Linked DNA regions of Homo sapiens: region 2 is reported to be linked to region 1. Evidence: microRNA targets listed by miRTarBase, many of them from high-throughput screens and not tested one by one. Region 1 holds a microRNA gene; the other region holds the end of a gene's coding sequence.
Evidence for each region. Region 1 holds the annotated microRNA hsa-miR-4664-5p (UGGGGUGCCCACUCCGCAAGUU, at 2,978-2,999, opposite strand). A microRNA usually pairs through its seed, bases 2 to 8, with sites in the 3' UTR of a target mRNA and lowers its output. Matches are read on the target gene's strand: a 7mer-m8 pairs with bases 2 to 8, a 7mer-A1 pairs with bases 2 to 7 and ends in A, and an 8mer does both.

Region 1 (5,358 bases):
GAACGGATCATCCTGCGGGCCTCATCCTTGATACTGGGGCTGTCGGGGGGCGGTGGCTGCACCAAGGTGGTCACCTCGGTGCCCTGGAAGCCGAAGGTCAGAGGCCAGCCCAAATCAAGCTCAGGCACGGCCTGGTCTGAGTTCACTGGCCAGTATGTACCCGAGGAGCCATCCATGTCCACGTCGAGAAGGCTGCCTTCAGGTGGCTCTCGGGTAACATACTGCGGAGGCCGAAGGTGTCGGCTCACATGTTCCAGCTCTTCAGGGCACAGGAAGTCTGGTGCCCCCTCGGTAGCGAGGAAGCGGCTGTAGGCCTCCGAGCCACCCTCGGCCAGTGCATCCACCGCCAGGCGGTAGTACTCTTTGTAGTGAGGCGGCAGGTACCCGGGTGCCAGTGGGTTGTCCCCCTGCGAGGAGCTCTGAGAGCGACGGGCCATGTTGGGGCCAGGGGCCTGGAGGGGCAGGGAGACACATGACTAGGGGTGGGGGCACTGGGACCACTCCTACCCTCGAGCATGGACACACTGTGGAAAGGGCCGTCAGTGACTTGGGTAGGCTGGAGTTTAGCCCATGCCCAGGAGGCCTTCCAGGGCACCAGCCGAACCAGGCTCACAGAGAGCAACCCAGACCCTAGGATGCCCCTAGCTGAGGGGACACTGGCAGAGGGCTGGGGCACAGGTATCCCAGCCCTGTCTCTCCTTTCTCTGGGAGGCTGAGGCAGGAGGACTGCTTGAAGCCAGGAGTTTGAAACCAGCCTGGGCAACACAGCAAGACCCCATCTCTACAAAAAATTTTAAACATTAGGCAGGCATGGTGGCGTGCACACATAGTCCCAGGCACTTGGGAAGCTGAGACAGAAGGATTGTTTGAGCCCAGGAGTTGGAGGCTGCTGTGAATTATGATTGTGACACTGCACTCCTGCCTGGGTGACAGAGTGAGACCACATCACTACAAAAAATAAAAATAAAACGAACCCCCCCCCCCAAATATTTCATGACTGTTGGCTTAAAGACAAACAATCCAGGCTGCATTCATCATTATAATATTCACTTTTTTCTTATTTTAAGACATTCACGGACCCCTGGCACTGTGCCTACTGGACAAGCTGGTGCCGCCCATGCTGCCCATGTGTCCGTCTCTGACTGCCTGGGAGACTGTGGGTAGGTCACTGCACCTCTCTGGCCTACCTCTACTGCACAACACAGCTGAGGGTCCACATGACACCACGCCTAGCCCAAGGTGAGCGCAGCAAACAGGGCTGTGACTACCCTCCTCCTGGAATGGCAACCTTAAGCCCCACACATAGTCCCGGGCCACACCTCCTCCCCATCCTCAGGGTTTCACAATTGGGCTCCCACAGCCCATTCTATGACCGCCCAGTCCTGGAACACTGATCCCTAGACTCCGTCCCTGTCTCCCAGCACCCCCTCCTTCCCTTGGCCTACCTTTGACCTCTTTCTTGTCACTGTCCCTCTCAGATAAAACCTCCCTGGGCCACAGCCCCTTGGTGCCCACAGGGCCCTGCAGGGCCTGCACTCCACATCGCCCAAATCTGGCTCTCCACTTGCTCAGAGTCCTGTCCCCACCAGCCCCCATCCAGGGCAGCAGGGACCTTTCCAGGTCCTGGGCTCGCCACCACCATCCATGCTTGGCTGCCCCACAGCCCACTCTGTTCTCCAAAGGGTCCCTGCGGGGGCCTGGCCTCTCCAGAAAGGTGTCAGATGGGGAGCGCCCAGGGCCCACGCACACAGGGTCACTGAGCTACCTGGGTACCTCTCCCTGGAAGGAGAGCCCTAGGGACTGCTCAGTCCATCCCACTGCTCCTCGGGTTGGGGAGGGAGGCAGGACACCTGTCCCCGCCTAGCACACAGGTTCCTGAATGTTGGCCCTGGCTAGGAAGGTGCCCAGAGGAGCGTGCCCCTGGGCGCTGACAGGATGGATGCCGGCCAGCTGGACTACATGGGTGCTAGCCGGAGCCACTTGGCTGAGAATGTTGGGGTCAGGAGGCAGCCGTCCTGCCTGGTGCCCCTGGGGGTGACATGGAGTTGAGACATGGGAAATACCTGGTGCCACTCAACAGCCCTAGATGCCAACCGGCTTGGGAGAAGCTGTCCCAACATTTCTTTGTTGGGGCACCGTCCTCATGGTTGACATATGGGGCTGGTTAGGGCACACCGCTCTGGTTGTGCCAGGGGCAGATCGAGGCCAACCACATGGGGGTGAGGTGTAGGCCTGTCTGGCTGGGCCGAGGAGCCCACTCACCATTGCCAGCCTGTCTGTAGGGGCGGTGTCTGACCATACAGGGCAGGGGGAACAACCCTGCTGATGTTGTTTGAGGGTACTTCCCGACACTGGGGGGACACTCTAGAAAGGACCCCCACTGTCCCTTTGGATTTCAGTGTCCAGGCTCCAGGCTGTGTGTAATGGGGGCAGGGACCATCCAGACAGTGGAAGCCCCCGTGGCCAGGAGCCCTCCCAGCAGACATGCCTCGTCCTCACAGGGTGATGCCCAGACCTCCAACTGCTTCATTCCTCACGTCGTCTCCTTTCATGGGTACGTGTCTCCTGGGCTATGGACGGGGCTGCAGCCACTCCCGAGCCCAAGATGGAGCACCCCAGTGGCCTGCATGCCCACACATTTGCCTACCAAACGTCTGCCCAAGGGAGGGAGGGCGCGGAACCCACCCATGGGCAATGACTCAGCACGAATCCACTCTTCTGCTTGCTGACCCCTGACCTCTGACTCGAAGTCAGGGCCCTCAGCTGGCCTTCAAGGACCCCATCCTCTCCACCCTGGCAGGAAGTGGGGTTCCTGAGTATCTGGAAGGAGGACCCCATGGAAGGATCTGGAGTTCCTACACAAAGTGGGGTGAACCTGTGCCAAGTTCCGATGGGCGCAGGAGGGCGCGGAGGCTCTAGGCGGCGGAAAGGTGGGGTGCGGAGGACGGGGCTCACAGACCGGAAGTCGCTCAGTGATAACTTGCGGAGTGGGCACCCCAGCCCCCAACGGGGTCAGTGCACCCTACGAGCTCGCGGCTGCGGCCGCTGGGTGCCCTATCCGCCCACCCCAGCCCAGGAACGTGGGCGCGAGGGGCAGCACTCCCATCACTCGCCCTGCTCGCCACGCGGGGATCCAGGCCGCACCCTGGCCACCCCAGTCCACGGCGGCCCGGGCGGATGTCCCCAGGGAAGGGTCCAGGCCGTGCCCAGCACCCAGACTCCAGCTAGGCCGCGAGGGCGGGAGCGAGTCGGGACGGCCGGGCAGGCTCGACCCGGATCCCGGGCCCCTTCCCCCTCGGCTCTTTTCGGGCCGGCGTCGTGCGGGGGCGCTCGCGTCCATATCCGCACAGCGGCGCCCCCTGTCCGAGCAGCCCCGCCACCCCGGCCCCGCGCACGCGGCCGCGCTCCACTCCCACCGCCCCTCTCTGGGTCGCGCGGCCCCGGCCCAGGTGTGGGCGCAAGGGTAGCCCAAGTGGGACCGCGCCAAGGGGCGCCCGCCCCCCGCCTCGCCCCGCCCCGCTCGGGCCGGGGGAGGGGGGCCCTACCTGGCCAGGTGCGCGGGGTCTCGGCACAGGGGCAGCAGGAGCCGACCGCCGCCCAGCGGCCTCGCGGTCCGGTCGGTCCGGCAGCCACTCCCTGCCGCGGCCCGCCCGGCCTGATTCACGCGCCCGCCCCCGCCCCGCCCGTCGCTCCTGCCTCCTGCCTGCCCGGGCAGCACCTGGGGGCGGGGCAGCCCCACCCGCGGCGCGCCCGCATTCCTGCGCCCCGCGCCCGCCGCCAGCCCCAGCCCGCGCCCCCGGCCCGCGCCCCGACCCGCCCGTGCCCTGCGGCCGCGCGCCCGGAGACCCCGGCCCAGCGCCGCCGGAGACCGTGAGGCCCGCACTTCAAAGACCCCGACCCCCGGGAGCCCAACTGTTGACCCAAGGCTCAAAGTTCCCAGCCTGACCCCTGACCCTCGCCCCGGAAGTCGGGGTGACTCGGAAGTTCCGGCTCAGTCGCTAGGAAACGAGCGAGCCCGACGCCAGGGGCGGAGCTCTGGCCTCCTCGCCGAGTTGGGGGAGGCAGGTGCGACAGGTGAGGACGGTGGGGCGGCGTCGAGCCCCGGGCGGGGCCGGGTCTGGGAGCCCCGAGAGCACAGGGGATCCCCTCACCACACACCGGTCTCCCACCGCACCAGCGCCCCACACGTAGACGAGGACCCCGCCCACACAGAGGACCCCCAGACCCCAACCCCCACCACACACACTGATGCCCACAAGTACCTGGGGTCCCCCATCTTTCTCCCTCACCCCCTCACACCGATGCCCACACTTGTAGGGGACTCTGCCGCAGTGACCCCCCCATGCACATGCGGACCCCGAATGACCTGTGCCTCATGTACACCAACCCCCAAGCACAGGAGACTCCTCAGGAAGACAGAAGCCACAAGCACACCGAGTCCTGCCCATGCCAGTCACCCACGAACACGCTGACATCCGCACACCTAGGGAACCCCACCTGCATATGAGATTTCTCAGACACCAACCCCACACACAAACAGGGGATGCCATATTCACACTGACTCTGAGAGCACAGGGGACCTCCCTCACATACGGAACCCTGTGTACACACAGGGACTCTGCAAAAACCAAGCCCCAACGGACAAGGGACCCAGTGTGCACACCAAGCCTCATACCAGACGCCCCCCCATGTACACAGCAACCCCCACACACCACCCCGAGCTGCCCCTGGGTGCTCCAGTCCCCCAGGTCCCCCTCAGGCCCTCACTTAGGGCCCCTCCCCCTCTTAGGCCCTGCCCTACACTGGATCATCTGTCCAAACCACCACCCCTCGCCCCTGCCACTCCCACCCCAAGGACTGGCCCTGCCTCAACCCTTTCTGATGGTCATCAGTCGCCTTTCTCTTTGTTCCTCTTGCCATGTGATCCTATTTTCTGTTTTCAGGGTCAGTCCCAGTTTCATTTGTTCTTTCCCCAAACACTCAGTGCCACCCCACTGGTACCAGCATGCTGGAAACATGGGTGGGGGGTCAGACCAGTGCCCAGGCAACTGTGCTGCAGCGGGTGAGGGGCATGGGGCACCGGGGAGGACCCGGACAGGCTGGGGCAGGCAGGAGGAGCCTCCCAGGGAAATGAACTTGGGGGTCAGCTGTGTGGACTAGGGAGAGGGGTGTTGCTCCAGGGCCTGACACCACCATCTGCCAGAGCCGGGACCACATAAGGTCTGAGGGTGTGGAGGGGTGAGTGCCTTGGGTGGGCTGGGGAGCAGGCTCAGGGGTGGGCTGGCTTCCCAGGGCAGTGGAGAGGCATGGAGGCTTCAGCAGAGAGGGCCATGCTCATGATTACGGTGAGAACAAAGA
Region 2 (5,358 bases), not on the chromosome of region 1:
ACACAGCTTCTGTTAAGGCATTTCAGCCGTGCCACTCCTAATTTCCGTGTGAACTCTGTAAAATTAGAATTCTTTGATCTGTAGGTCTCTCTGGTCAAATGACCAAGAAACGAGGGATGTACAACCTGAGAAAGCACGTTCAGCTTTATCTTTTTAAACTTTTTTTATTTAAATAAGGAGAATTCTTTCATATGGAAAGAGCTAGTACAATCACATATTTGAAAGGAGAAACAATAGGTACTGAACCGGAGGGAAAGGGCGAGGGTGAGTGTGCCAGCACCGGCCTGGTGAATCCACGATTCGATTTCCCATCCAAGGTAAGTTTCCCAAAATACCGTATAAACAAGCTGCACATTACACCTCTAGCCATCGTCTGCCCTTTCAAATATCTGGTCTACATGGAAAGACAAAGAGGAAAGGCCAAAACATAAACAAAAGGAAACAAAAACAAAACACAACCCTCTCAGGAACCAAACAAAACCCCCAAATCCTTTTTTACTACACAAGGCATGAGGTCAAAAGCTTGAGTACAGTGTCCCCTTTAGATCACGGGAGAAAGGCGTCCACACAGAGCCTTAGCAGGAATTTCCACTCTGAGGCTTCAGAACATGCTGAAGATGGGGCTCTGAGGGTGCCACTACCATCCTGGAGGCCACCAAGTGGGGTGGAAACAGTGAAGAGCAGGTCTCACATGCCCGAAGACCACCAGCCAACTACACATTGGTGGCCCTGGTGGAGCATGGCTGGGCGACAGCGTCCATCCCCAACACTGAGCCACTCCTGTCCTGGATGACTTCCTGCTTAGGTCCGTCACATTTCAGAAGAGAGCTGGCTTTCTGGAAGCCTACGTTTCCCATTCATCACAGAACACGACAGAGTGCACACATCCTGGTATCCTTGGTCTTCAAAGGCCATTTCCAGCAGACCCTCTAACCCAGGCTTGTTCTGCAGGAAGTGAAAAGGGACAAATGAAGATTTGAGGGGCAGCCTGCAGCTACTTGGCACAGGGGAACCAAATGGCAAGGGAGAAGGCTCCACCAGAGCTGCCATGCTGCCGTAGCAGGCCAGACCACAGCATGGCTGTGCACCTGTGTGTGCTCAGCTTCCAGAAGCTGTCACTGACCATCGCGAAGGCAGATCCAGAAGATAGGAGGGTGACAGCACGGCTGGAGAGCACTGATGTCAACGTTTAACAAGGTTCCCCAGTGTCCCTAGAAGTGGCTGGAAGGACCACAGCTTTGGAACTGAACTGATTTTCTTGAATGTGAAATAAAGTCATCTTTTGTTTTCCCCCTTAAGGAACCTAGAGCCAGAGTGTCTATGAATTCCAAGTTTGAAAACAATATGAATGTTTAAAAAAAAACAAAAAACGCTGTGGGGAGAAGCCAACAGTTAAGAAAACCAAACCAAATGCAGCTGGCATTGAAGTCCCCAGTGGGTAGATGGGCATCTGAGATGTATACCCACACTCTGGACTTCATCCCACTCTAGTGGATGGTGGACAATACCGCAAGGCCACTGGTGGCTGAGCAACGAGCCGCATCCCCAGTGACCAAGGCAGAGCTGCCAGCGTCAGGAGGGCAACTTTAACAGGCAAAAGTGAGTGGGTTCTGACCCCCCAATCCCTACCTCAGCAGCAGGAAAGGGAAGTGCTGGTCTCCACCTGTTCCCACTAAGGCCCCGTGGTATCCTGGCAGAAGCCTCTGCATGTATCTGCGCTCTGAGGATGGGGGTTTGAAAACAAAATAAGACCCTACGTCCTACTACCTTGAGCTTGGCTCTAAAACCACGGGAAAGGAAGAGATATATTGCACCTTAAAACATCTCTGCACTAAGAACTGCATTTCATTAGACCAAGGAGGGGTTGGGGCGCTGGGAGGCCTGAGGCCTGCCCTCAGCCCCCCAAGTCTCATTTAAAACCTGCATCTCAGCGAAGAGACTGCAGCTCAGGTCACACACAGGTGGTGACTGCACCGAACTTCACATGCAATTTCCTGGCCTTTCCTGCACAGAATTAATTCAGACATTATATATAAATAGAGCAGTGAAACATTTACTTCTTTTTTTTTCACCTAGACCTACAACATCAATACATATAAATAAATTCTAGTGTTTTTTGTTTTTTTATTTGGGGTGGGGGAGGAGAAAGGAAGGAAATACCAGGTAAGAGAAAAGGGCTGGAGAACAGGTGACCTTTTTGTTTTTATTTTTTCTCAAACAGCAAGTACTGTGGGTCTGATACCAGGTTCACCTGAAGGGTACATCTTAACAGCATCCAGAAGGCTTTCTTTTGACAAATCACACGCACCACCGCATCAGGTGGGAGGGGTCTGGCCATGCGGCTCAAGTGTCCAGGTGGAGATGAATGTGTGGCTCCCGCAGGCCTGAACTCACCCAGGAATGGCTTGGCAAGGAGGGCCGGTGGGGACAGAGAGGGCTCATCCCAGGCCCCACAAGCAGCCGCTTGCAGTGGGAGAAGGAAAAGCAGACAAGAAGCTCAGGTAGGGAATGCCTGGAACTGTCGGGTGGGCAGCCCCTGGGGAAGGGACTCAAGCATAAAGGCTTGGGATAAAGAGGGAAAAGACCAGGTGAGGGCAGGAGGGGAGCTGCTGAAAGATGCAGGTGAACAGTAAAGCACCTTTCAGTAAAACTGCCCTTTCCCAGGCAGCTCTGGGGTGGGCGCTGTTGGTAGGAGGCCGTTCTCCCGCTTCCTTAGAATTGTGAGAGCAGTAAGAAGTTACTTCAGCAGTTCCTAAGATGCTCCTTCCCCATGTTCTACACTAGACACAGAGCTTAGAGCCCAAGCCTGAGCGCTGTCCTGCACCCGTGAGACGCTGAAGGCAGCCTCTGGTGGGGGGTGCATCCCCGGCCCCCTCCTCTAGGTGTTCTGAGCCAGCCTCCTCTGGAGGAGGAGGTAGACGCTCAGTGACCCCTAAGAACAGCTGAGAAACCTGAACTGTCCCCTTCCCTTTCCTTGGAATGACAGAATCTGGAGTGATTTCCTTGTTTCTTACTTAAAAACAAGCCCAGCACACGATGGCTCACACAAGCCTCTGGCTGGAGAAGCTGCCCTCCCGGAGGCTGCGCAGGCCCTTTGGACCTTGGTCAGCCCTCCACCCAGCCTCACCCTGGACCTGCCCCCGCCGTCTGAAGACAAACGAGACTGATGCCTACTGCTTAGCTCAGGCCCTCCTGTCCTGACAACCTGGGTCTGCTGCTGGGAGTGAAGCAAAGGAGGAAAAGGACAAACTCCCAGTGGCCTCACTTGGGGACCACACACGGGTCCACTCCCTCCATCACCAAGTGGTGTTCACGATGAGCTGTGTGGGAGGTGGAGACAGGTCCAGAGAAAGCAGCAGGCTCCGGAAGAGGAAGGAAGGAAAATGACAGGTTACAGAAGGCTTCAGGGAAAGAAATGTGTGAAAAACACAGCACCCCTGCAGGGCAGGGTATGGAGCCCCAGAAGCAGAGCCCACGGGGCCTGGGATGGGCCTGTGGTATGTCAGCTCACCCCATCTGGGCCAACCTGGGAGCCACCAGCAGCCATCTCCATGATTTGTCTCTGGTGCCCAGCACATCCACTGGCTTTAGAGGAGCCCAGGACAGGGACCCTGTGTGATTCTCATGCTAAAACTGTCATCAACTTCATGGGCTGCCTGTAAGCGCCCTGGGCTCATCAAGCCAGGAGCTGGAACCCAACTATGACCCCCCCCCTCCCCCAACCTGCCTGCTGCTCTGAGCACCCCATCGCTTCCCAGGCGGGGAGCCAGGCACCAGAATGCTCGCAATCGGTGCCCTCAAGAACCTCCTTTTCTTTTTGCAAATAACCTCAAGGGTGAACCAGCTGAGGAATCAGGAGGGGATGCATTCTTAAGAGTCACCTCTTAAGGTACTGCAGTGACGTATCAAACTAAACAGGACAGAGGCTAGAGATGGAAGGGAGCGGAGGGGCTGGCAAGAAACATATAAAAGTTCAGCTATACACATGGAGCTTGCGTTTTTGTTTTCTTTTCCTTTCCCCTTTGTAAAAACCTTGGCTACATTTTAAAACAAAAAGCCTCAAAGTAAAATGACCCTGCTGCCAAATCACTGTGCCTAGGGATGGGCGGCTGGGCCGGAAGCACTGCTGAGAAGGCGCCCTGGCTGCGCGGCAGGACAGGGAGGAGGCAGGGAGGGCAAATCTGCACTGCACAGGAGGCGTCACTCCACAGTCACGGTAGGAGCAGATGGGATGAAGGAGTCGTCTGCTTTTTTGTTTCGTATCAAAGCAAGCGGGTCAATGCCATATATCCACGGGTGCAAGCTGGTTGACAACGGAGCTTTCGGGAGTGGAGAGGAGGGAGGTCTCTCAGTCTGGGCCACGCATTTGGACGGTGGATCTGGTGAGGCTCCCGAGTGTCGGCTGTGTCGAGGCCGCATGGCGGCACCGTCCTCAGTAGGGAGAGGCGAGGTGGCAGCCAGGCACTGTCAGGCCTTACTCTCCTCCACTTTGACAGCCCGAGGCTTGATCGCTCCGGTTCGCTTCATCTGGGAGGCAGCCGAGGGGGCCTCCTGCAGCTTCACGGCTCCCAGGCTGGGTTTCTCATCCACTCGTTGTTTTGCCTTTGGACAGATGAATGGGAAAAACAAAGTGACCCTGACGCTGAAACGTGTTTGGATACATAGTTCCCACCACTCCCTTCCTGCTCCTGAGTTGCAGGGAAAGCTCCCCTAAGTTGTCAGTCCCTTGGTTGAAGGACCAGACTTAGAAACCCCCCTCCTAGTAAGGAAAGTGGCGCGAGTGCCGTCTCTGCTCCCTCCCCATAAGCCCTGAGTGCAGTGATTCGGAGAGGCAGGAAGACACCGGGTCCTCCACAAAGAATTCCGCGATGGCACATCCCAGGGCGGAAGCAGTTCTGGTCCCAAGGCCAACTGGAAGAACCTTTTCAAATCAGTGCACCTCCTGCCCCACAGGCAAAAAAGGCCCCTTCAAGTAGATCCAAGTGCCCCCTGCACGTCTCGGAGCCCCCGACTGTCTGCTGGGGCCCTAGGCAGACTTGGCCCCCACAGATCTCTGGCCGCGATTCAGCCAACCCCCCCACCATTCCCACTCTGTAACCTTTCCCTGGGGCCCCATTCCTAGTCAGGGCTCCCCTGGTCTGTGGCTCTACACGGGGAGTGGGGTGGGGAAGTCACAGAGCAGCCAGCGCATCTGCCCCCCACCAGGTCTGAACTCTGGAAGAAAGCTTTAGAAGCTCATTCCACACAACTTTCATGACCCCTAGGGGAACCAATGAGAGCAATCACTTCCCATCTCTACCAGCCAGGCACAGTGACTGATTAAAAACCCACGTCTGAGGGGCTTAAGCTCTGAGCCCC

Region 2: the mRNA of PRRC2B is a reported target of hsa-miR-4664-5p. Seed matches in the 3' UTR shown: 7mer-m8 at 2,855-2,861, 7mer-A1 at 2,672-2,678, 7mer-A1 at 2,130-2,136 and 7mer-A1 at 661-667.

What each region holds. Positions count from the first base shown.
Region 1 is chr8:143,730,146-143,735,503 of GRCh38, forward strand. MIR4664 (microRNA 4664) reads right to left here and starts at 3,008; the gene lies at 2,938-3,008. It overlaps FAM83H (family with sequence similarity 83 member H), which reads right to left and starts at 3,634. Exons shown (of 5, transcript NM_198488.5): 1 at 3,546-3,634; 2 at 1-452. The coding sequence starts at 437. It overlaps IQANK1 (IQ motif and ankyrin repeat containing 1), which reads left to right and starts at 3,994. Exons shown (of 14, transcript NM_001381874.1): 1 at 3,994-4,074. RefSeq lists a silencer at 2,487-2,697 and an enhancer at 2,574-2,868.
Region 2 is chr9:131,494,984-131,500,341 of GRCh38, reverse strand. It overlaps PRRC2B (proline rich coiled-coil 2B), which reads right to left. Exons shown (of 32, transcript NM_013318.4): 32 at 149-4,602. The coding sequence ends at 4,468. It also overlaps the pseudogene LOC124902290. Among named protein-coding and RNA genes, the nearest start is that of POMT1, 5.3 kb to the left of the region's middle. RefSeq lists an enhancer at 1-326.